3 separate regions of the Homo sapiens genome follow, and all the other regions are linked to region 2. Evidence: fine-mapped expression QTL. A gene starts in region 2. Each other region holds a variant in brackets. All regions are shown on one strand. Distances are from middle to middle. Region 1 overlaps LMOD1 (leiomodin 1). Region 2 holds the start of LMOD1 (leiomodin 1). Region 3 overlaps NAV1 (neuron navigator 1).

Evidence for each region.
Region 1: its variant is fine-mapped to the expression of LMOD1 in tibial nerve (GTEx, PIP above 0.99). The same link has a PIP of 0.9 or more in atrial appendage, lung, sigmoid colon and subcutaneous fat.
Region 3: its variant is fine-mapped to the expression of LMOD1 in whole blood (INTERVAL, PIP above 0.99).

The regions. Positions count from the first base shown.
Region 1 is chr1:201,913,981-201,922,157 of GRCh38, forward strand. The region is part of intron 1 of LMOD1 (leiomodin 1); the gene reads right to left. Among named protein-coding and RNA genes, the nearest start is that of LMOD1, 28 kb to the right of the region's middle. RefSeq lists an enhancer at 229-729. The variant TA/T (reference allele first, on the strand shown) is at 3,661.
Region 2 is chr1:201,942,804-201,950,980 of GRCh38, forward strand. It overlaps LMOD1 (leiomodin 1), which reads right to left and starts at 3,745. Exons shown (of 3, transcript NM_012134.3): 1 at 3,277-3,745. The coding sequence starts at 3,537.
Region 3 is chr1:201,671,807-201,679,983 of GRCh38, forward strand. The region is part of intron 5 of NAV1 (neuron navigator 1); the gene reads left to right. Among named protein-coding and RNA genes, the nearest start is that of MIR5191, 44 kb to the right of the region's middle. The variant C/G (reference allele first, on the strand shown) is at 4,675.

The DNA of each region.
Region 1 (8,177 bases), 29 kb before region 2:
GGTCCTTGCTTTCAACTCTTTGGGAGTGTAGATGGACCCAAAAGTGGAACCGCTGGCCATGAGACCCAAATTCTGACTTCTCTGCACCACCCACCTTGACTGCTTCACCTCTTGTTCTATCCAGCACGTCAGTCATCACCTTGCCAGTATCCTCAACCCCAGTCACACGTGCCAGCCAAAGCCCCAACCCTACAGCCAAAGCACTGACTGCAGGCCTGTGTGGCTCCTCCTCCCAGGTGCTGGGCTATCTGGGGAGAGTAGCCCACACCCCACGTGGTGCCGTCCACTGTCTGCAGCCCCTGTGAACCCTAACACTCACAAGTGGCGCCAATGCTGAGGACCAGCTTGAGAGTCAGAAGGCCAGGGTTCCACACTTTGCTCTTATGTCAACATGGACAGGTTAATTTGCCTTCCTCATCTGTAAAACGGGGATCACATCTGGTACGGGGCGGTATTAAGGCTTCATTGAGGTGAGTGGATAACACATCCACTTCCTGTGGCTGCACAGGAAGCTTTCAATAAAAGGTAACTGTCATTATGGGTCTAGCTCTCTCCTGGTTCTTCATAGCATCTATCCGAATTCTTCTCCCTTCTCTTAGTATCTCTCGTCCCACTCCACCCCTATTCTTGGCAGACAATCTCCTCTAATTTCTTCCCAGGCAGACAGAGGAAACAACCCATGGCAATTCTCCAACTTCCTGCCACCTCTTCTACAAACTCACCTCCAGGCTCATCTTTCACCTTCCCTCTCCTCCTGCCCAGGCTCACCCCTCCCCACGCACTCTGGTGCCCACCCCTCCTCCCCACATTGCACTCCCGCACCCTCTTCCACAGCCTTAGCCTCTCCCTCTTTCCTGGCCCCTTCCCACCACCCTTTAAACCTGCCCATCTCTCCCGGTTAATCAGATCCTCCTTCTGTCCACAGTCCCTTCCAGCTGTAGCGCCAGCCTTCCCGTATACCCAAACTTCCTCAAAGAGCTCTACTTTTTGATCCGTATTCATTCCTCAATCCAACACACTCTTGCCTCACCCCCAACATTCCATGGAAATTAGTTTCATCCAGATCACTTCTGACCCTCCTGTCACTAAGTCGGATTTATCTTTTATTTCATATATTGCTCAAACTGCGTGGGAAGCATCTGGCGCTATTGGCCAGGTCCTTCCTTCAAAACGCTTCCCCATCGGTTTCCACCGCAGCCTTCATGGCTTTCCTCCTAGCTCTCTGATAGCTCCTTTAGGCCTCCTTCAAGGACCCTCTTCCTTGAGACATGTGGGTGTTGGCAAGGTCTTATTTTAGGCCTCCTTTGTTTTCACCTTTAGAGCCTCTCACCGGATTATCTCATCCATTCTGATGGCATCAGCTGCATTCTACGTACTGATGTCTCTCAAAGCTGGATCTCTGGGCCAGACACTACTAGGAAGGTAGTACCGTCTAATGAATATCTTGGTTTGTGTGCCCCAAAGTACCTCAAAAACTGGACTCCTTATCTTCCCCCACTGCCTTGCCGACCCCTGCACTATTCCCTATCTGGGCAAGTGGCTCCTCTAAACACCCAGTGACTCCAATCAGAACCCGGCTGGGAAGAGGAAAGGAGGGATCTGTGGGGAGGCAACGTGGACCCCTCTGCACCCCGCTCTGCACTCACTCACCCTTCCCTACCAGTAGCCCAAGTGATTTTGGGGGAAGGCTGGGAAATCGACCTATTATATACTCCCTCGTTACCTGCACACAGATACTACAGCCTGAACCCCACTCAGATCAATCCCTCTCCTCCATCCTCACAGATGTTCCCTTGGTCCAGGCCACTATCACCTCTCATGGGGTTATAGCAACAACCTCCTCTCGGTTTCGCTGACCTCCTCCAGGGCGATCCTTGCACGGCAGCCCCAGGGACCTTGCTGAAGGCCAGACCCATCCGAAGCCTTTCAGTGTCTAATGTCTGAACTTTTTTTTTTTGATACAAGGTCTCATTCTCTCCTCTGGGCTGCAGTGCAGTGGTGTGACACGGCTCACTGCAGCCTTGACTTCCTCCAGCTTGTGATCCTCCCACCTCAGCCTCCTAGGTAGCTGCTACTACAGGCATGCACCACCACACCCAGCGGATTTTTGTATTTTTTGTAGAGACGGGGTTTCGCCATGTTGCCCAGGCTGGTCTTAAACTTCTGGGCTCAAGCGATCCACACACCTTGGCCTCTCGGAGTGCTGAGATTACGGTGTGAGCCACCACACCTGGCTTGAACTACTTTTATGATCAGAAAAATACAACAAAGGCACATCTATTCCAGGACTTTGGAAGGTCAGGGTGAGGGGAAGCTGGAGCCCAGGAGTTCAAGACCGTCCTGGGCAACATGGTGAAACTCCATCTCTACAAAAAATACAAACATTAGCCAGGCGTGGTGGCATGTGCTTGTAGCCCTAGCTACCTGGGAGGCTGAGGTGAGAGGATCACCTGAGCCAAGGGAGGTCGAGGTTGCAGTGAGCCGTGATCATGCCACTGCACTCCAGCCTGAGCAACAGAGAGAGACCCTGTCTCAAAAAACAAAACAAAACAAAACAAAACAAAAACCAACAAAAGCTGTTTTATGAAAAAGAAACAAAATTGTCTTTAAATAACTGAGTTTCACAGCAAAAACAAAACAAAATTAAAAACCAAGAGGCATCAGGCCGTGGTGTGGGGAGGAGGGATGGATGGGGCCAGAGGTGGGAGGGAGGGGATTCCCCGTCACTGTGCTCAGTCTTCAGCCCGGCTGTGCTGTGCCCAGGACCTGCCTCGCAGCCTGACCTTCGCCTGGCTCTGTTCCAGCAATTACACATCAGCCCCGGTGATAAACATCAGTGCTGAGCAGAGGGCCAAAGGGTCTCAGGCACTGCCTCCAGCTCCAGCATAAACAGAAACGCCATGATTCATTTTTACCTCCCAAGATGATCTCCAGGGGTCGGAGTGGCGCAATGGCAGCCAAGAAAAGGGCAGCGGTTTGTGAACCTGGGAAAAAAAGGGCATTTTCTGATGCAGTCCTGCGGGAGACCAGGCTTTACAAGAGGAGTGAACGCCACCATCTCAGGGCCTGCTCTGTCTTTGTAGGGAAGGGGAGCAAAGAAACCTTCTGGAAAAGACAAGGATAATGTGCAGATGTGGGTGGCTGGGCACTTACACTGCATGTGTCACCAAACTCTGCCAAGGCTGGGAGGGTTCTTGCCTGCCTTGAGTCTTTAAGGACCAGGGTTTCTAGTGAAAGGGATGGTAAATGGGGGAAGGTGGCCTGACCTCAAAAGCCTGCCAAGAGCCATCAAGAGGCACCAGAAAGGAAGGCACGGTGAGCGGTGTCTGTGTTTCACCTAGGCCCTTACCCCTACCACCAAGGCTTCTGCATTCACTGCAAGTAGAGAAAGACAGAGGCGTTTTGAGGTGAGGGCATGCAACACAGCCTGCAATAGCTAAGACTTCACAGTCAGCGCCATTCTGGCTTCTGCCTGGGGGTTATGCAGAACCCATCACTAGGGGGATGAAGGTTCTTGTGGCAGATCTTCTCGGCCAATGAAGGGTCAACTCCATTGCTCTCAGCAGAACTAAATGCTTTGCCAACTGGTCTGGTGACTCATACTGGGAAGCTTGTAGCAAACCCCATTTTTGGAGAAACCGGGAAATCTCTTTGGGGAGA[TA/T]AACAAGTCACTGTAGCACTCTGCTCTCTGAAGTGCCTGGCTAGTACTTTCTGCTTCTTCATTTTATCCCAGCACCAAGGAAAACCCAAGCAAGTCTGGGAAATGTTGTAAAGATCTACACAAATGCAAGCTATTTGTCCCAGGCTTCTGGGTCCCACTTAGGTCCCGGAGGGTGGCAGAAGGAACATACTGTTCTTTTACTGCCTGGGGCTGTGAGCAGGAGGCCTGGCTTTCATACAGCCCCTCTCCTGTTCCTTCTAAACAGAAAAGGGTACATTGGCTAAAGCAGGAGCAGCTTTATGGTGTCTGACCTCTGCAGTGCTCCAGGGCCCCATGCTCAGAGGGCCCTACGCTTGGTTTAATTCTCTGCTGTCATCGTCTTGAAAGTTTTAGTAATTCTTGAGCACATTTTCATTTTGCGCTAAGCCCTGCAAATTCTGTAGCCAGTCCTAGGCCTAAGAGGCCAGGGATCAGGGATGGTGCAGCTCTCTGTCTTCCCGCCTTCTCCCTCTTCAGGAATGGCTCTCCCACCCCACAGACACTGGGACATCAGCCTTGACGCTTCCTTTTTCCCTCACCACGTTCCCTTCATCCCACCTTCCTAACATAGCTGAGATTAGCTTCCTCACATCCCCTCACCATTGCTGTGTTTGCGGCCTCCATCATCTCTTGCCTCCCCACTGAACCCCCTGCCTCCTGTCTTCCTTCTCTTTGAGTGCACTCTGTCTCCAGAAAGACCTTTCAAAATGTGATTCTGATCCATGGCTCCCATGCTTTCAGGATGAAGTGCAGACTTTGTAGCATGGCAACAAAGCCCTCCGTGACCTGGCCTGTGCCTGCCTCTGTGCGCCCTCCCCTTCCTGCCTGCACTCTGGTTACAGTGAGGAACAGCCACGCTGGGCTCTCTTGGGTCTTGCTGCCCTACCCCATGCTGGGCTCTCTTGGGTCTTGTTGCCTATGCATGCTGCTCCTGCCACACAGGATGTCCTCTCGCTTTCTTCTCTGCCTGGCTAACACTTCTTCTTTTGTTCCTCCTCCTTCTTTTTAACTTTATATGTGGAAAAGTTCGACTGTACAACAAACTAGAGAGAACAGCACAATGAACCTCAAGGTACCCATTGCCCAGCTTCAGCGATTCTCTACATATGGCCAATCTTGTTTCATCTGATGCCCACCCATTTTTGTCACAATCTCACATTATTTGAAAGCAAATTCCAGGTGTATCATTTCATGCATACATATTTCAGTGTGTACTCTATTTCTTTTTTAGGGACAGGGTCTCACTCTGTCACCCAGGCTGGAGTGTAGTGGTATGATCATAGCTCACTATAACCTCAAACTCCTGGGCTCAAGTGATCCTCCTGCCTCAGCTTTCCGAGTATCTAGGACTACAGGCATGTGCCACCATGCCTGGCTAACTTTTATTTTTGTAGATCTGGGGTCTTGCTATGTTGCTCAGGCTGGTCTCAAACTCCTGGCCTCAAGCAATCCTCCCGCCTTGGCCTCACTTTTGCTGGGATTACAGGTGTGAGCCACCATGCCTGGCCTCAGTGTGTATCTCTAAAAGACAGAAACTTTTTTTTTTTTGGGGGGTCAGAGCCTCAGTCCTTCACCCAGGCTGGAGTGCAGTGGTACTCACTGCAACCTCCGCCTCCTGGGTTCAAGCAATTTTCCTGCCTCAGCCTCCCAAGTAGCTGGGATTACAGGTGCCCACCACCATGCCCGGCTGATTTTGTATTTTTAGTAGAGACGGGGTTTCACCATGTTGGCCAGGCTGGTCTCAAACTCCTGACCTCAGGTGATCTGCCTGCCTTGGCCTCCCAAAGTGCTGGGATTACAGGCATGAGCCACCACGCCTGGCCCCTTTTCTTCTTTTTTAACCTGACTCTGTGTCAGAAAGCCCATTTGGTCCTGTTATTCCCAGGGACTGTATAAAGCAAGGTGACCCCTTCTCTTCTATGTGAGTGCTCTGTAGGTATTGGGTCCTCTCCCTGAGGCTGCTTTTCTGTGGGCTAGAAAAGTTCATCTGTTAGACTAAGCCTGCCATTCCAGCCTGACTAGAATTTTCTAAATCCTGGTTCTGCTGTTTAAAAGCTCACTGTGACTCTCAGCTTCAGATAATCTGCCAGTGTGGTACATGTGCCTTCTGGATCTTTTTGTCCACTAACCAGGGCAGACTCCAGGGCAGAACTCTCTGGTATCCTACTACAGGCCTCCAGGGAGCCACCAATCAGCATCCACCTGCATCACCTTCCAGTCCACATCTCTCCATCCTGGCCACTAAACTATTGTAAGCAGCCTTTTTCAGTGTCTTCCTAAAGTCTCCAGAAGAGCCCAGGACTTCAAAGAGTAGAAGGAATATATTGGCTTCAATGCCATCTCCACCCGCCACTGGCTCTCTCTCTTTTTTTTTTTTTTTTTTTTTTTTTTTTGAGACCAAGTTTTGTTCTTGTCACCCAGGCAGCTGGGGTGCAATGGCATGATCTTGGCTCACTGCAACCTCAACCTCCGGGGTTCAAGTGATTCTCCTGCCTCAGCCTCCCAAGTAGCTGGGATTACAGGCACCCACCACCACGCCTGGTTAATTTTTGTATTTTTAGCAGAGACAGGGTTTCTCCATGTTGGCCAGGCTGGTCTTGAACTCCTGACCTCAGACGATCCGCCCGCCTCAGCCTCCCACCCACCATTGACTCTCTGACTGGGGATTACTACCCCAGTAAAATGACATACTTTCCCAGGCCTTGTGAATTGTTCTGGAAAGACATCATGCTACAGGGTCAATACAACTCCTAAATGCAGCTCCCTTTTAGCAGCTGAGGCCCTTGGAGACACCGGTTTTTCCTATGCCAAGGCCACAGAGACCAGAATTCCACTTGCTTGCTGAGGAAGTCAATCATAGTTGAGAAATAGCTGAGGAGTAAGCTGAGTCTTTAAGCTCAAGGACAATTAGGAGGTGGGTCTGGATATTCTACTGGAAGGGAGAAAGAAAAGCCAAGACCTACTGGGAAGACAGGGAGCAAACAAGGATGTCAAGCCATTAAATCAAGGAGGCCAAGTGGCCTCTACACAGTGCAGGACCCAGCGAATATAGAATAGGGGGTGGGAGGCTGGGCGCGGTGGCTCACGCCTGTAATCTCAGCACTTTGGGAAGCCAAGGCAGGAGGCTTGCTTGAGCCCAGGAGTTTGAGACCAGCCTGGGCAACATAGTGTGACCCTGTTTCTAAAAATAAAAATAAATAAATAAATAAAAAAGTAAGAAAGAAGAGAAAAAAAGAAAGGAAATGATGAGATCTTGGACCAGGCTGAGCAGTGAACACAGAGGAGTGGAGATGCATTCCATGGACATTTCTAGGGTACAGTTAATAAGATTCAGTGAAGTGGACAATGCCGAGGAGAAGTGGAGGATGACTCCCTGATTTCCAGTTTGGTTGCCTGGTTAGAGAGTGATGCTTATAACCATGGCGGGGAATATGGAGCGGGGAGATGAGGGTGGCACTTGAGATGATCAACTGTTTTGGCCATGACAAAATTTAAATGCCTAACAGGTTGGCATTAATAAAGATCTGGGCTGGGCGCAGTGGCTCACACCTGTAATCCCAGCACTTTGGGAGGCTGAGGCGGGCAGATCACGAGGTCAGGAGTTCGAGGCTAGCCTGGCCAGCATAGTGAAACCCCATCTCTACTAAAAATACAAAAATTAGCTGGGCATGGTGGTGCGAGCCTGCAGTCCCAGCTACTCGTGAGGCTGAGGTTGGAGAACTGCTTGACCCCAGGAGGTGGAGGTTGCAGTGAGCTGAGATTGCACCACTGCCCTCCAGCCTGGGCGACAGAGTGAGACTCCATCTCAAAAAAAAAAAAAAAAAAAAAAAAAGATCTGGGGCTCAGAAAGGAGATCTAGGCTTGACAGGTAGGTTTGGGAGTCATTGGTGTATACGTAGCAATGAAAACCACGGGAGTAAATATGGTGACTCTGAAAAGTGAGTTATCAGGAAGAGGAAAGGGACTTACAGAATAGGTCAAGAAAATCACCGCATTATGGCCGGATGCAGTGGCTCATGCCTATAATCCCAGCACTTTGGGAGGCTGAGGCGGGCGGATCACGAGGTCAGGAGATCGAGACCATCCTGGCTAACACAGTGAAACCCCATCTCTACTAAAAATACAAAAAATTAGCCAGGCGTGGTGGTGGGCGCCTGTAGTCCCAGCTGCTCGGGAGGCTGAGGCAGGAGAATGGCGTGAACCCGGGAGGCAGAGCTTGCAGTGAGCTGAGATCATGCCAGTGCACTCCAGCCTGGGCGACAGAGTGAGATTCCATCTCAAAAAAAAAAAGAAAAAGAAAATCACCACATTATTTAATGAAACAAAATCCATGCCCTTTGAGATTGGCAAAACCGTGATGAGATATACTTCACACCTATTGGGTGTCTATAATCAAAAAGACAGACAATAATAAGTGTGGACAAGGATGTGGAGAAATTGGACCCCTTGTATGTTGCTGGTAAGATATAAATAGTGC
Region 2 (8,177 bases):
TTCATCTATATATACCCCCACCCAGATTATTTTAAGGCTAATTCCCAAAGCCAATAAATTTTTCCCATAAATATTTATGTATTTATGTCTAAAAGAAAAGAATCCTTTAAAAAGTATATCTGCAATGCCATTATCACACCTAAAAGAAATTAATAGAAATTCCTTAACAGCATCCACTATCTAGTCAGGATTTACTTTCCCTAATCCACACTTAGTTTTTCTAGTTATGTTCCTACTCATGGGGGCAGGGAGATGAACATTTGACAGAAGACTATTATATCAGCCAATATAAGAATTTGTGGTCTCTGCTCTGTAGCACTCTCTGATGGTTCTATCCATGTGTGTTTTGCATGGAATCTAATTGGATTACAAATTCTTCAGGGCAGGGACTGACATTACTGTCTTTTTTGCACCCTAGTATGGCAGAGAGGAAGAAGCACTGATCTCAACTAATTAGCTGTGTGACTTTGGGAAGGTTATTCAACCTCTCTAAGATAATAGGAATAAAAATACACATCTCCCAAGAATCGTAAGGCTTAAAGAAAAGGTGAATGTGCTCGGCATGTAGAAGTTTCTTAGTAAATGCTCATCTTGCTTTACTCTCTGTTTTGACCACTTTTCAGTTCCTCACATGGAGTGAAGGCCACCGTCAGTGAGGGCTGCAGCCAGGCCAGCAGCCTGGAGTCCACCTGCCCCCAGCACGGTGCTGTGTCTGTGGTGTTGGTGGTCCCCACTCTGAGCACCCAGGGGTTGCTTGTTTACTCGGGCCACTCATTAAACTGACAGGTGAGGCTTGCACAGCCCTCAGGAAACTGAGGGAAGAGAGGGGCTGGACAGGAGTAGAGATTTGCTTTCGGCCCACTTCACCGGTTTCTGGGTTCCTTGACTCAGATGAAGTAATAATTTCATAGCTGGCCTTGACTGAGTGTTTATGACACGCCAAGCTCTGTGCTAAGTGCTCTACCGCAGCACCGCTTTTAGTGTTCACAACCCTGTGAGATGGGTACTACTATCCATATTTTGTAGGTGATGAAACTGAGGCTTAGATTAGGTAACTTGTGACTTACACAGAGACACCATTACTCAAACCAGGTTTTTCTAATACTTAAATCCAAGTTCTTGGCCACACACTCACTATTTTGTTAATGGTGCCAAAGAAGCCACCTTCTAGGGTTCATTCTCACCCAGATTTACAGAGATGACTTCTGCCCAGGCTCAGCATGCACCCCGAACTCCAGCCAGCCATTATGCCAATGTACGTCCCTGGACAGGGTGAGGAAGAGTGAGGGGATCAGAACAGCCTACATCCACAAGGGAAAACCGGACCTAAAGGCATCTCCTTACATCAAGGATGTACACACAAACACACACACCACTTCTATTTCTTGACTCGGGCTCTGTCCGCAGAACCAAGTGTGGACCTGGCAGGGGTGAGAGAGGTGAGGCAGGGGAGGAGACACTTGTCACGGTATTAACTGGCTGAATAAAAAGTCTATGATAGTGAAATTTCCAGGAACAGGAGAATCCTTCACACTCTTGCTTGTGATTAGACTGCTTTGTTTGACTTCAGCCTCAGGAGTACCTTTCTGAGCACTGGAAGCTACCGGACACAAGGCAGTCATGGGCCCAGAGCCTGCGACTGGGAGTGGGGAAGAGCAGAGTCAACGATTTCCAAGGGTGCCAAAGCCTTTGGCTGCATTTCATTTCTTTCTGTATGATTCCTGATAGCTGTGTTGGGGTACCGGGCCCTCACAGTAAGTGCTACCACTTTTTCTGTAAATGTTTTGGTTTTATTTATCATTATCATAGCTGCATCTGGGGCAACCACCTTGTGCATACAGGACAATAAATTCCTGAGCCTCCTGGCTTCCCTCCTTCCTCCCTCCTTCTCCCTCTTCTTGGCAAAGGCTTAAACATAGGTGGTGGGGCGGGGGGGGGCGGTAGGGACAGAGACAGAGTTCCAGCTCCTCTTTGCTTCACCCCCTTCCCTCCTCCTCCCTTCTTTCCCATTGCTACACTAAAGGAGTCAGGGCTGTGTCCACCAATATGCTCTGTGACTAGCAGTCAACACAATTTCATACCCAGCCAGTCATTCCGCAGGCATTTTGGATGATAATGTTCCCATTCTCAGTTCCTCTGTGAGAATGTGCATGTCATTTGAAGCTCTGTGCCTCAGTTTCCATAGAAGTAAAACAAAAAGCAAGAATTGAGACTGATCTTTTTCTTGCAAGAATTCACAAGTAATGGATAATGTACAAGAGATGTGGCTGAATAAGAGAACTAGAACAAAGACTTGAACAATTTTCCTATGCAACACTCTTTCCCATGGACAAAGGTATCCCACAAAGTCATACTTCATCGGAGGCTAGTTTGTCCAAAGAAAACTCACATACCAATGCAATAGTGACAAAAAAAAAATTCCTCCATGCCAACTCAGGAAAACAGAAAGCAAGTTGTGCTTAAGCCCATTGTAGGTGTGGGCAGATGCTTCCAAAACCGTCACCCCTTTTCCCTCCTCTATGACTATCTTCAACCCCCAGCAAAGCGGCCTCGCCAGCTGCTAAAGGGTTAATTACCAAAAAGAGGGCATGCTCCCTCCAGAGGCTCCTCTGGAGAGTGCAAAAACAAAACAAAACCAAAAACCAACTAACCACAACAAAAAACATCTTCCCTGGGAATAAATTTGAAGCTTATCAGGTCTTTAAGCCACATTTCCCAGCCCATAGACTCCTGGTCCCTGTCTCCCTTTGCTTTGGGAAACTCATTTACCCCCAAGCCTCCTGAAATGATCCATGTGCCGTGAGATGCCCATAGGGTTGGGGACTTGAAAATGAGTTATTCTCCCACAAAAAATGGCTTAGCTTTGTCTTTTTGGGTGGCTGACAGGAGACATAAAGTATCACTCTCTCTTTTTACCCCTCCTCACAATAGGATGGAATGAGTGTGGAGAAAAACAAAGGTATTGTGGGACCAGGATGGAGTCAACTTGACAATGGACTCTTCAAGGACACCTTCCAGCTCCCATTCTACTAGTAGCTCTATTTGATTTTGTGGGATGTTGTGTTCCTCCAACATATCCGACTTCTGCTTATAAAACAGAAATTAGGAGTAAGAGATTCGCACCGCTAGTTCAGTGGATAATCATCAGTTCTGAAGCATTAAAATCCTTTGCCAACAAGAACGTTTCTTCTAAGGAAGGAAGCATCCTAATCATGAAGCCAGGGTCTCCAGCCCTCCCCTGTCTCCCTCCTCCCCTCCAGGGCTGTGCTCACTCACATCCATGGACATCTCCCTCTGCATAAGTTTCTTGGTCTCCTTTTCACAGAAGTTGAGCATGGCCTCCCGGTTGTACACACCCGTGGACTGTTTCTCCGTCTGGTTTCTCTGCCGCAGCCCCACGGGAACACTCCCGTCTGGGTCCACCACGTCCAGCTCCTTCTCCAGCTCCTCCATCTCCTCGGGAGACAGGGTCTCCAGCAGGCTGTCGATGTCGGGGTCTTCACTCACCTGCCGGCGATATTTGGCTACTCTAGACATCTTGGCAAAATGGGCTGTGGCTGCCAGGGGCTATCAGAGTCCTGGTGGGCAGGGAAGGGAGAGGGGTGAGCTGATCTGGATGCAGCGAGTGGGCTGAGGAGCAAACCTCCTGCTGGTCGAGGACTGCAGCTCCTTGGCCCTTCTGTGCTACAGGTGCTGAAGTGTTCACTGGACGCAGCAGCCTCCCTGAAGCCCAGGGCTAGTGGACCCCGGCTGGTCTAATCAGCGGCCAATAAGACCCGACAACTGCCAGGCCCGGAGAGGAGAAGCCAATCCCCAAGCTGGGGGCGGGCCTACCTCGCTGTCAGAGCTGTTTGAAACTTGAGGACATTCCAGGGAATCTTGGAGCGCTGCGTGACCAAATTTAGTACAGAGCAGTTTAGCCTTTTAAAGACAAGGGGCCACGCAATGAGAAAAAGATACAAAAATGCGTAGGCTGGCAGAAGCAGATCACAGCCACGGAGAGCCAGACAAGCAGGGACGAGGCCATGAGGGCCGGTGAACTCGCCAGCCCGGGGCACGTTCAAGAGCGTATTTTACTACTCCATCACCGGGTGGACGTATCACTGTGGTCAATGTGTGGTTCATGGACTTCCTTCTACAGTATTTGGTAATGTGCTGGGGGGCTCCCAGGTGTATACAGCTCCAGGAAAGTCTAGATTCAAGATGAGGAGCTGTTACTCCTAACCCCCTGCCTACCCATTTTCTTTCTACCCAGGTTCTGCCAAGGAGGACCTGAAGGCTGAGCATCAGAGGCTCCAGGATCCTTTGGCCACTTCTTAAGAGAGAGACAGGAGACAGAAAGACAAACTTAGAGATAGAGATAGCTAGGCAGGAGAGGGAGAGAGAGAGAGAGAGAGAGAGAGAGAGAGAGAGAGAGAGAGAATAAATCCTTACTGTGTACCAAAACTGAAAACTGGCAGGCTGTTTGGGAAAGAGAGAAGGATCTGCAGAAGTCGGGAAACTCTTAAAGGGCTGTCACTTTCCATGAAGTTCCAAGGCTCTTGGGAAGAGGGTTCAAACCTCCCCCTGTTGTCATCTGTTTCTTCCTCTGCCGGGCATCTGTAGACAGACCTCCTTTGGGAGCACAGAGGCAGGTCACCACCCACATATAAATCCAGAGCACGATTTAGTATGTCTTCAGGGAAACAGAATTCTGGGCCGTCGGGAGAGATACGATTGCAACAGGTCTGGCATGTTTCATAGAAGGGCTTTCCACTGCTCATCCATCATGCTGCCCTGCACAAGTCACAGAGACATTCAATCCCCTGCCCCCCTTCCTCCTGCCACAAAATCCCTTCTAGAAGCCCTGGTGTAACCCATCAGGGTAGATGCTTCGATCTTTCCTGGCATCTTTCCATCCTAAGCCAGAGAGAGACAGTCACTTGATCAGCATTTGCTGAGTCCAGGGATCGTCTGGGACTAAAACTTGGCCGTGCCATTTAATGTCCACTAGTCCAACTTTAGGTTAAGGCTGAAGAGGGGAATGGTGTCCACTGGGGGGACTGAAGGGCAGAAGGAAGGCAGGCAGACTTGATAGGAAGAGTGGAAGAAGACTTTAGGGAAACCTGGGGGTTGTCATTTTAAGAGTCAGTAGCCAACTTATTGGTCAAACCGTAGGTATATATTTATTGAGTGATTTATCAAGTGCCTATTATATATCAGGCATTGTTCTAAGAGCAAGAGATATCACTAAAGATACAAAATCAGGCCAGGTGCAGTGGCTCATGTCTGTAATCCCAGCACTTTGGGAGGCCAAGGCAAGAGGATTGCTTGAGTCCAGGAGTTCAAGAACAGGCTGGGCAACATAATGAGACCCCCATCTCTCCAAAAAAAAAAAAAAAACAAAATTAGCCTGATGTGGTGGTGAGCATCTGTTGTCCCAGCTACTCAGGGGGTTGAGGTGGGAGGATTGCTTGAGACCAGAAGGTTGAGGCTGCAGTGAGCTGTGATCACGCTACTGTACTCCAGCCTGGGCAACAGAGTAAGACCCCATCTCAAAAAAGAAAGAAAGAAAGAAAGAAAGAAAGAAAGAAAGAGCGAGCAAGCACAGGGGCTATGGGAAAACACAACAAGAGGAGGCTGAATAGAAGTATGATTTAACAGTGAAGAGCTTGGGCCTTTGAGGCCAATAGACCTGTATTTGGTCCTGGTATTGCTACTTACAGGCCATGTGACTTGGGCAAGCTACCTTCTTTTCTGAGACTTGAGTTCATCATCTGTAAAATAAGGACAACAGTTATACCAACCTTATACAATTGTTGTGAATATTAAATTAGGTCCTACACATGACAACATTTCATTGATATACCCAGTACATGGTAAACACCATATTTATTATTAATTATTATAATTATTTATTTATTTATTTATTGGGAAACTCTGTTTCACTCTTATTGCCCAGGCTGGAGTGCAATGGCGCGATCTCGGCTCACTGCAACCTCCGCCTCCCGGGTTCAAGCAATTCTCCTGTCTCACCCTCCCAAGTAGCTGGGATTACAGGCATGAGCCACCATGCCCGGCTAATTTTGTATTTTTAGTAGACATGGGGTTTCTCCATGTTGGTCAGGCTGGTCTTGAACTCCTGACCTCAGGTGATCCACCTGCCTCGGTCTCCCAAAGTGCTGGGATTACAGGCGTGAGCCACAGCGCCTGGCTATAATTATTTATTTACTCTTGTCCTGGGTTCTTTTCTTCCCATCCCACCTTTTCTCTCATCTTTTTATTTCTTTCTCTCAAGAGTAAACACCCTCTAAACACACACACACACACACACACACACACACACACTTTCTCACCTGGTTCTCATTCATTCATTCAAACATTTATTCAGATACTACTATTTATATATAGCATCCTGCCAGGCACTACAACATTGTCATTACAACATTGTTATTCTCTTAAACATGTATAATTCAATGGGGTAAAAAATAATAATAACTACACTGTAAGGCAAAGTGAAGCAAGCTAGAGAGGTACAAGGAGTCTTGCAGAGAGGTCCAACTGTTAAAAAACCCAGTGGAAGACACATTAATTTTGTGGGGAGGAGTCAGGGTGGTCATCTCAGAGGGCATAACAAAGGGTTTCAGCCATGCTGGAGTGGGCTTTTAGTTAGGTATGTTGGGTGGACATGGCACTCCCTATGCCCATCCCCTCCCCCTGTACCCCCTTTGGGTCAGCTGGCCTTCACCCTCAGTGTTGCCCAGAAAAAAGCATCATCTTCTGGGGTCCCTGGCTCTAGGACCTCAGCCAACCTCTAGCCTCCCAGTCAGCTGAAAGCAATTCTCTTTCTAGTTTCCAAGGACTCTTTCTCAGGCTTTTTGCCAAAAATATTCACTGCTCCCTGAGGAGCAGTCAGGGCCTAAAAGCAAATCACTACCTTCAGCCCCAGGGTTAGCCCTGTACCATCTGGTTTCAGTGGTTTTCTTTTTTGGGCCCAGTGGTCTCTGCTCCAGGAAGACACTCAAAAAAATAAATCCATAGCTTTCAAATGTAAAGGGCAGGACTCATGCCTCCTAACCAAAGGTTTCTACACATTAACCCCAGTATCTTCTCTGTGTCAGGTCTCCCAATTCCAAATCGCTGGTTCTTCTGACATGACTCAGTCAGAAGCTTTTTACTCCCTGGAGCCCCAAGAGCTCCCTGACACTGCTCACAGACTCCAAAAGTCTTCCCTTGAAAGGCATCACAGCTGGAGCTGGAGGATTTGGGAACCCAGAGGCCAGGGAGTACAGCCACCTCCAGCCCCTACAATGAGAGGCCACTGCCCGACCCACTCTGTAGGGAGCACTGGTTGTTCCAGCTCAGAATCAACTTCCACCTGAAACAAATCCATCCTGGGTATCAGGACCCTGGCCGTTGTCTATTCCCCAGAGAAAAACAAGCACTGTTGTCGCTAGAGGGATGGGGAGAGAAAAGAAGGAAAAGAGACTCAAAGCTCCAATCAAAATGTGGTGCAGGGCAGGAGGGAAGAATGAGGATCCAGAACCAATTTAATTAATGCTTAGGTGGCTCTCAGTTGGGCTGAATGACCCCAGGAAAGTCACATTTTCAGGAATATAGGGTGGCAGTATAGTATAGCAGATAAGACTACAGGCTCTGGAGTCAAATGACATGGGCTCAAATCTGAGATGTGTGACCTTAAGTAAGTTATTTAACCTCTCTGAGCCTTAGGCAATGGAAAATGAGGATATTAAGAGCATCTACGAGCTGGGTGCAGTGATGTGTGCCTGTAGTCCCAACTACTTGGGGTGCTGAGGCGGGAGGGTTGCTTAAGCCCAGGAGTTTGAGTCCAGCCTAGGGAAAATGTGAGACTCGTCTCTAAAACAAAACAAAACAAAACAAAACAAAACAAAACAACAACAAAAAACCAGACCGGGCATGATGGCTTATGCTTGTAATCCCCACATTTTGGGAGGCCGAGGAGGTGGGATGAATGTTTGAGGCCAGGAGTCAAGATGATCCCAGGCAACAGAGTGAGACCCCATCTCTTAAAAAAAAAACCTTGTCCAGGCACAGTGGCTCACATCTGTAATCCCAACACTTTGGGAGGCCAAGGTGGGCTGATCACTTGAGGCCAGGATTTTGAAACCAGCCTGGCCGACATTGCAAAACCCCACAAAAACTAGCCGGGTGTGGTG
Region 3 (8,177 bases), 270 kb before region 2:
GTCACAATACCGATGCTGGCTTCTATCTCTGGTGAGTAATGTCAGGCTGTCTCGAGGTTAAACCTTAAAAGAGAGGCTCCATTTCTCCACAAGGAGCAGGCCCAGCTTAGGGTAAAATGTCAGAGATATAAGACTCTCTCTGCCATCCTGATCCTCCGCATCCCGGCCTCTCTCCCACTCCCACTCTATCAGCAGTGTCCCGTCTCTCCTCTTTAGCCTGCCAAAGCTTTCCTCTCTCTTCTTCCTTCTCTACTTTCTCTCAGGACTGAACCAAGAACTCACTCACACTGAGGCCACTACTAACTGACAACAGCCTAAAGCACTGTATTTGAAACGTTTTTTCTCCCACCTTGATCCTCCAAGTCAGAAATACATTTTTCAGCAAACTCAGTACACACATACTGAGTCAAAAGTTTTATGAAACAATACTATGCACAATATATTTAAGTTTTTTGTATGTGTGATTTCTTGATTGTATTGTATGTGGTCTAATTTTTTTTCAATTGCTGGTTGCAATCCACTACATTGATTTCATGATCCACAAATGAGTTACAGCCTGCAATTTGAAAAGTCCCTGGCCTAAAAGAACCTTCTTTCTAAGCACAGAAAGTCCCTGGGAACTGGTTGTCAAGACAGTTTACCCAGATTTTGGATAATAGAGCAATTTCTTTGTGCCAGGCCCTGTTCTGGGTGCTTTATGTATAATAGTTCAGTGAACCCACACAGCCCTTCTATGAGGTAGATGTTATTGTGATCATCATTCACATTTTATGGGCCAGGAACCTGAGGCAAAGAAAGGTTAAGTTCCTTATCTAAGCTCTTACTGCTAGTAAGTGGCAGAACTCAAGACGCCGTGTGTTTAACCATTGGGCTCTGCTGCCTTTCAGGGTGTCATAGAAATAAGGTGGCTTTGCAGAGGGATATACATGATGCTCTAAGAAAGCCTATAAGAAGTCCCTGTGGTCAGAGCAGGACTCAGATGCTTCTGGAAGGCAAGCTTGGTTTGCATGTTGTAAAAAACCTGCCAAACAGACTGGGCTCTGAGAACTTACCGCCCAACAGACGCTCAAGCTCGACTGCCCTGTGGACGCACATAGACTGATGGCGATGCCAGTGGGGACGACTGAAGCCCTTGGGGTGCATGTTAGGCCCACATGTAGAACTCTGCCCACTGGCCAATCAGCAAGCAGTACCGAAGAAAAGCCTGACTCTGGTCTTTACAAAAAAAAATACTGCCGTTAATTTTAAACACACCTCTTTTTGCAGGCTAAATAGAAAAGTGAGCTTAATCTACACTCTTGCTGTTCTTTAATGAATTTATTGTTTTAGGCTCTGTGAGAATGCAATAAAAGTTAAAAATGTATTTCAGAACACAGTGCAAATGTGTCTCCGCATTTGATGGATTGCTTTTGAGTCCAACACTTCCGGCCCGTGGGCAGGCAGGCCCCACAGATGGGCCGCGGCATCTACGAGCAGAGCGAGAGTGCGTCTATAAGGGATGGTCGTGGGAGGCACACACTTATCAGATTTCATTTCTGTTCTCTTCTCTTGGCATAGTAGCTGGAGAGTGGTAAAATGGGAGATGGAGAGACAGTGAAACAGCTGAAGTAGCAGCCTCAATTATTTACAGACCAGATTGTCAGCCTCCCAAAAAATGAAAATTGACCTCACATCTCTCTTCTCCTTTTCACAGCTGGGAGGGTCAGGCACATTACTATTGGCCACTCTCAGCATTGGCCATTCTCACCTCCCCATCCCTCTGCATCCTCAGCTAAGCTCAATGCAGAAATTCAAACGCAAGGAACAGGCCCTGCCCTCAGAGAGCCCCCATTCTGATGTGGGAGAGAGGGCAGAAGAGTTCAAGACCCAGATCGTTAACAAGGGAAGGCACAGGCATAGGACAGAATGTATGTAGCCGTGGGCACTGTAAGGGGCATAGCAGTTGAATAGCAGCCTTGTCTAGAGCCTAGATGTGGAATATTGCCCAAGAGTTGCACTTTGTAAACTGAGTCTATAAATACCAAGAGAATGTCGAAGAGAAGCTATTGAAGCCAGGTAGAGTTAGGGAAGGATTCTTAGAAGAGGTCAAACGTGAAGGGCAGCAGTCATGGAGAAGGTGCTTCATCTGAAGGTAGGGCCCAGTCAGTGCCTTGAAGCGGCAACCAAAGACTAGGAAAGCCTAAGCCAACATTTCTCAGTCCTGTTGGGGACTGCGCCAGCCACTGCTCTAAGACCTCGCTGCCAGGCCTGGCAGGTGGCCAGCCCAGGTGTCCAGGTGCCCAGATGCCCCACAGCAAGCCAAGGCCTCAATCCTCCCTTCACTTGATTTTCTGTGAGCCTTGCTTGCCAGCTAAGGTGTAGGGCCCTCCTTAGCTGTGGACGCAGAGCCAAGTTAAGTCGCCATGGTAACCCTCTGGCTGATGGGGACTTGGGTTGCCATGGAAACTTGTCTAAAATCAAAAAGTATTTTGGAAGAGGGGTTGCAGCAGAGAGGAAGGGTGGTGGGGGATGTCTGCCGCAGTGCCGCACTACCCATGATTCTGTTCTGTGCCCTTCTTGGGTTCCTCCTGGAATGAGTGTGTGTTGGGGGGGGTTGTCCAGGGCCCAGCCCAGGGCTTCTAAGAAATAGTCATTGCTGGTACCAGGAGCCCTCCTGGAGGCCCTCCAGCAAAACATGTATGTTAGGCCATTCTTGCGTTGCTGTAAAGAAATACCAGAGGCTGGATAATTTATTTAAAAAAGAGGTTTAATTGGCTCATGTTTCTACTGGCTGTATAGGAAGCATGGTGCAGGCATCTGCTCAGCCTTCAAAGGAGCCTCAGGGAGCATTTACTTATGGCAGAAGGTGAAGTGGGAGCAGGCTTGTCACATGGTGACAGAGGGAGCAAAAGAGAGAGTTGTGGGGGTAAGTGCCACACAATTTTAAATAACCAGATCTCACGAAAACTGGCTGGGCACGGTGGCTCACACCTGTAATCTCAGCACTCTGGGAGGCCGAGGTGGGCAGATCACTTGAGGCCAGGAGTTTGAGACCAGCCTGGCCAACATGGTGAAACCCAATCTCTACTAAAAATACACACACACATAGCTGGGTGTGGTGGCGCGCACCTGTAATCCCACCTACTCTGGAGACTGAGGCAGGAGAATTGCCCGAACCTGGGAGGTTGAGGGTGCAGTGAGCGGAGATCGCGTCACTGCCTGGGCAACAGAGTGAGACTCTGTCTCAAAAAAAAAAAAAAAAAGAACTCACTATGGCAAGGATGGCACCAAGCCATGAGGGATCCACTCCCATGACCCAAGCACTTCCCATCAGGCCCCACCTCTGACCTGGGGATGACCTTTCCACATGAGATTTAGAGGGAACGGCCTCCAGACTACACCAGGTACCAATCTGTCCACCACCATGTCACACCAACATGTCCTCCATTTCCTTGGTGAATGCTTGACAGTATCTTTCAGTGCCAAATCTGCTCCTTGACAAAACCATAAAAGCCACAAAGTTAATGTCCTACTGCTGCCTGTCCCCTGCTCCTGAGATCCCTGCCCCGGGATCCTCCATGCTTATCGTCTCCTTTCTGACCGGGCACTTCTTGTCACAAGGCCAGGGCTGGCCAGCCTCGTGTAACCTCAGCTTCCTCTTCACCATGGTAGAGAGATAAAAGTCCCTGCTTTTAGACAGTGCACTTAGCCTGCTCAAAGGAACTGCTCCATAAACACTACTATTACTTACCATTAACTTACAACAAAAAATGAACCAGGCACTTGGTAAGGTGTTTGTATTTTACTCATCCCAGAGGAATTTGCACATTTAAATATCGTCTCTTTCCCTCCATCTTCTTCCCCAAGTTACCTTTCCTGAAAGTGGGATGATGTTTAAAACAAAGCGATGGAATTTGAGGGGTACAACCCCTACAGTTCTGTCCAAATTCACTTCTCTAAACTCATGTTCTCCCTCCACTCCACCCTAAACCCTGGCCTCCTGAGGCAACGAAGTTTGCCTATCTGGAACCATTTTCTGAAGCTGGATGGCAGACGGGGAGCCTCAAGAGGGAAGAAAAGAATGGCAAACTTTTCATTGGCCCAGTGGCCGGCCTCATAAATCATCATTCATAATTAGAATTATTTATTCCCAAATCACCATCCCAAGCCCCAGTTTCCCCTGTACCTAAAGCTCTTTTCACTTCTAGTTCAAGAGAGTCTTGCCCCCTCTCTGCGTCTCAAAAGTGATCTCTTCTCTTCCTCTAAACTCACCTGAAGCTTTCACCAAGTATGCTGGCCGGTTCTGCTTCCTACCCTATTGCCTACCAAAAGGAGATAATTCCAGCCCCTCTTTCTGAGATAGGGTGTTAATGAATCCTTACTGAGGCACAGACCTCTGGCCTCCTGCAGAGAGGTCCTCCTGGAAGTGCCCTGGGGACTCTGGAGACCTGGCCTCCCAGCAGCCACTCCCTCTGCTTTTAAGAGGAAGCTTTAGCCTGAGAAAGTTTGACTCCTTCCTGAAAGCTGCACTTATTTCAGCCAGGCTGGGCTCAGGTTTCAGGGCTCAGGGACTCTTTCTCTCCCTTTCTCCTTCCCAAGACTGAAATGCAGCTGCCCAGAAGTGCTGAGGAGGACACAGAGTCGGCTTCCTAGGCACAGGCCCAGCTCTGTCCCCTTTCCTTGTGCTGGGACCTT[C/G]AGTGGAGGGGAGGAGTCAGGGAGCCTCAGGGAGGCAAAGCAGGCCACACAGCGAGGGAAGCGGCTGGGGAGAGCTGACTCGCAGGAAATAGTTTCACCCCAGTGGTCCAGGCTGGGGTTCCCGGTAGCTCCTCCACCATTCTCCCCGCAACACCCAACCAGCTCTGCTTTTAAAAGGTGAACACAATCTTTCAGAAGCTGCAGCCCAAGCCCTTTCTGGCCCTGGCGAACCTTCCCCATTCCCCTCTTGCCAAACATTTTTATACCAAAATAATTAGATAATTAATAATCATGTCAAATACTGTGTTTCTGGCACTCCATACTTTTTAAGCTTTGGAATCTGTGTGTAATAGATCTAAATAGCAGCCCACAAACTTGGCCAGGCAACAAACATCCCATTCTTGATTGTCTTTAAACCAATGTAATTCTACTTCTGAGCCCCTACCCTCCTGAGTGGCAAGACATTTCAAGTCAGAATTACTGGGGTCTGGTTGGGCGCGGTGGCTCATGCCTGTAATCCCAGCACTTTAGGCGGCTGAGATGGGTGGATCACTTGAGGCCAGGAGTTTGAGACCAGCCTGGCCAACATGGTGAAACCCTGTCTCTATTAAAAATACAAACATTATCTGGTTATGGTGGTGCGTGCCTGTAATCCCAGCTACCCAGGAGGCTGAGGCAGAAGAATCGCTTGAACTTGGTGGGTGGAGGTTGCAGGAGCCAAGACTGTGCCACTGCACTCCAGCCTGGGCGACAGATTGAGACTCCATCTCAAAAAAAAAAAAAAAAAAAGAATTGCTGGCGGCTGGCATCCTTTCCCCCAACCCCAGGCTCACCCCAGGTCCAGAAGGTCTGAGCAAAGCTTGGAAAACAGGAAAGGACCACTATGTTGTGATCCCTGCAAGTTTCCTCAGTGCCTCTCCAGTTCTGTGCCATGGGACATGGACTTCTTTGCCAAGGCCAGCAGCCTCTGCCCAATGTCCCTTCCTCCTGTTTACCCCACCCCGTCCCCCTCAGGGTGTGGGAATGCATCTGACTGCTTGCTCCTGGGACTCACGGTGCTTTTTTCATTTCTAGTTCAGGAGAGCCTTGCCCACTCTCTGCTTCTCAAAAGTGGTCTCTTCCCTTCCCCTAAACTCACCATCTTTTTTGTTTGTTTGTTTGTTTCATTTCTGAGATGGGGTCTCCAGCCCAGGCTGAAGTGCAGTGGCATGATCTCCGCTCACTGCAACCTTCGCCTCCCAGGCATGGGCGACACTCCCACCTCAGCTTCGTGAGTAGCTAGGAACATAGGCATGCGCCGCCACGCCTGGCTAATTTTTTTTATTTTTTGGTAGAGATGGGGTTTCACCATGTCACCCAGGCTGGTCTCAAACTTCTGAGCTCAAGCAGTTTGCCCACCTCGGCTTCCCAAAGTGCTGAGATTACAGGCGTGACCCACCATACCCGGCCAAACTCACCTTCCTAATAGCCTGAAGCTTTCACCAAACATGCTGCCCCATTCTGCTTCCTATTCTGTCCAATGTCCCCGAAGTTTAGAGTTTTGAAACCTGGTGACCTGCTCAGAATGGGAGCTGGGGAGTGGAATTACACAGAGGGAGGCACCATGAATTAAACATCTCAGAAATGTATCCTGCCAAATGTGATTGCATTTTCGCACCACCCTGATAAAGTAGGTAGGACAAATATTAATATCCCCAAAAGGTAAATGAGGGAGCTACGTTATGAACTGACTTGGCAGTGAGTTTGTGGAAATACTAGAACACAAGTCCGGGCCTCCTACCTCTCAACGTAAGCTGCTGCTGCCAAAGCAAGCCTTTCTGAACTTTCCTGAAAGCTGCTGATAGCGCTCCAATGGCTGGTGTGTTTCAAGTGCTTATTGTGTGCAAGAAACTGAACTAAGCACTTTATGAGTAATAGTTTGATCAGTCTTTACTCCAACTCTTTGAGGTAGGTGCTCTTGTCCCCATTTTACAGATGAGGGTGTTGAGGCACAGAGAAGGCAAGGACTCCGCTGGAAGTCACAGAGTTGATAATTGCCACAGCCAGGATTTGAAACCTGCACTCTTAACTCCTCTCCTATAGTGAGTTTCCTAGTAACTTCAGCCCCTTCAGCGAAGAAGAAAGGAGTGATAAAGGAGTAACTGTATCAGCAATTTTGTTTAGCTTTCTGACTTCACCCAGCCTCCAACAAAAGAGGCTGCTTTCCAAAGTCCCAGGCTGCATTCATCCCTGCAAATTCATTGTTTCTTACCACCCACTCACCACCACAACGAATCTCCCCACAAGCTCAAACTCAAGGACACACCTCCCTCTGTCTGTCCCCCCTCCCAACCCAAACTCAACAGCATCAGCTCTGAGAGAAAAAGTCGAAGGAGGAAGGCTCCCACCAGAGAGCCCGTGAGGCATCCAGTGGGGTGGAGAGGGGTTTGGCAGCCCCTCCCCTCCATCTGCTTCCAGCTGGGACACAGGATGCTAGGGAGGGGAGGCTCCCGTGGAGACAAAGGTCGGGGAGCCCAGAAGGGAGGAGGTGGTTAGGATGCTGGGGGTTTGGAGGTGGGGCTATTTACTGGGGGGGAGACAGCAATGTGCAGGAGTTACCCAAATGAAGCCCCCTCCTGCCTGACTGCAGCGGGGAGCCAACCTCCTGAGCCTGCGGGCAGAGAGGCCACAATTAAGGCAGAGGGAGGCCAGCTGGCCCTCAAAGCACCTTTCTCTTCACAAAACCGGCAGTGGTCTCATTTACAACTCATCTCCCAAAGGGCTTGGAGGTGCTTGGAGAACCAGAAACCCTGGTCCTCTAATTACCGGTGTGCATCTGGGAAAGTGAGTCAGCCACGTGAAAATGAGCAGCCCAGAGCTCCTTCCACCCCTAAAGGGCAAGGTCCTGATTTTTCCATCTCAGACTGCCTGGCACCCCTGAGGACCCCCTCTGCTGAAAGCTGTTTGTAGGTAACCTTCTCTGTGGTTTCTATAGACCTCCTCCTTCCTCTCAACATCTCCCTTCTGAACCCCTACAAACCAGTTATTGAAATGTATGGTGCCCTTACTATGTACCAAATACTTATTCTATTTAATAACTCTGCACATTGCTGTCTTCCCCCAGTCACCAGATACTTCACGTGTCTTAAGTCCTCATGATAGGCCGACAAAGTTGAAATTATTTTTGTCCTCCTTCTGCAAATGAGGAAACTGAGGCAGAGAGGTTGAGTAACTTGCCTGAAGTCATCCAGCTAGTAAGTTTTGGAAAGGGGTTTTGAACAGGTGTCTGGTTCCTGGCCACTGCACTCTGCTCTCTCAGGGAGGCTTTGCTTTGGAGTGATGCAAAGAGGGATGTGGGGCATGGAGCATAGGTTTGTCATTCCTATATAAATCATAATACTTGTAAATTATTTGGAATTCTTCTGTATGAGAGACTTGTCTGCTCTCCCCCATTTATTCAGTGATTGATTTATATCACAATGTACTCATGGGAGTGTTTATCTTATACTCTGAGTTATAATTCA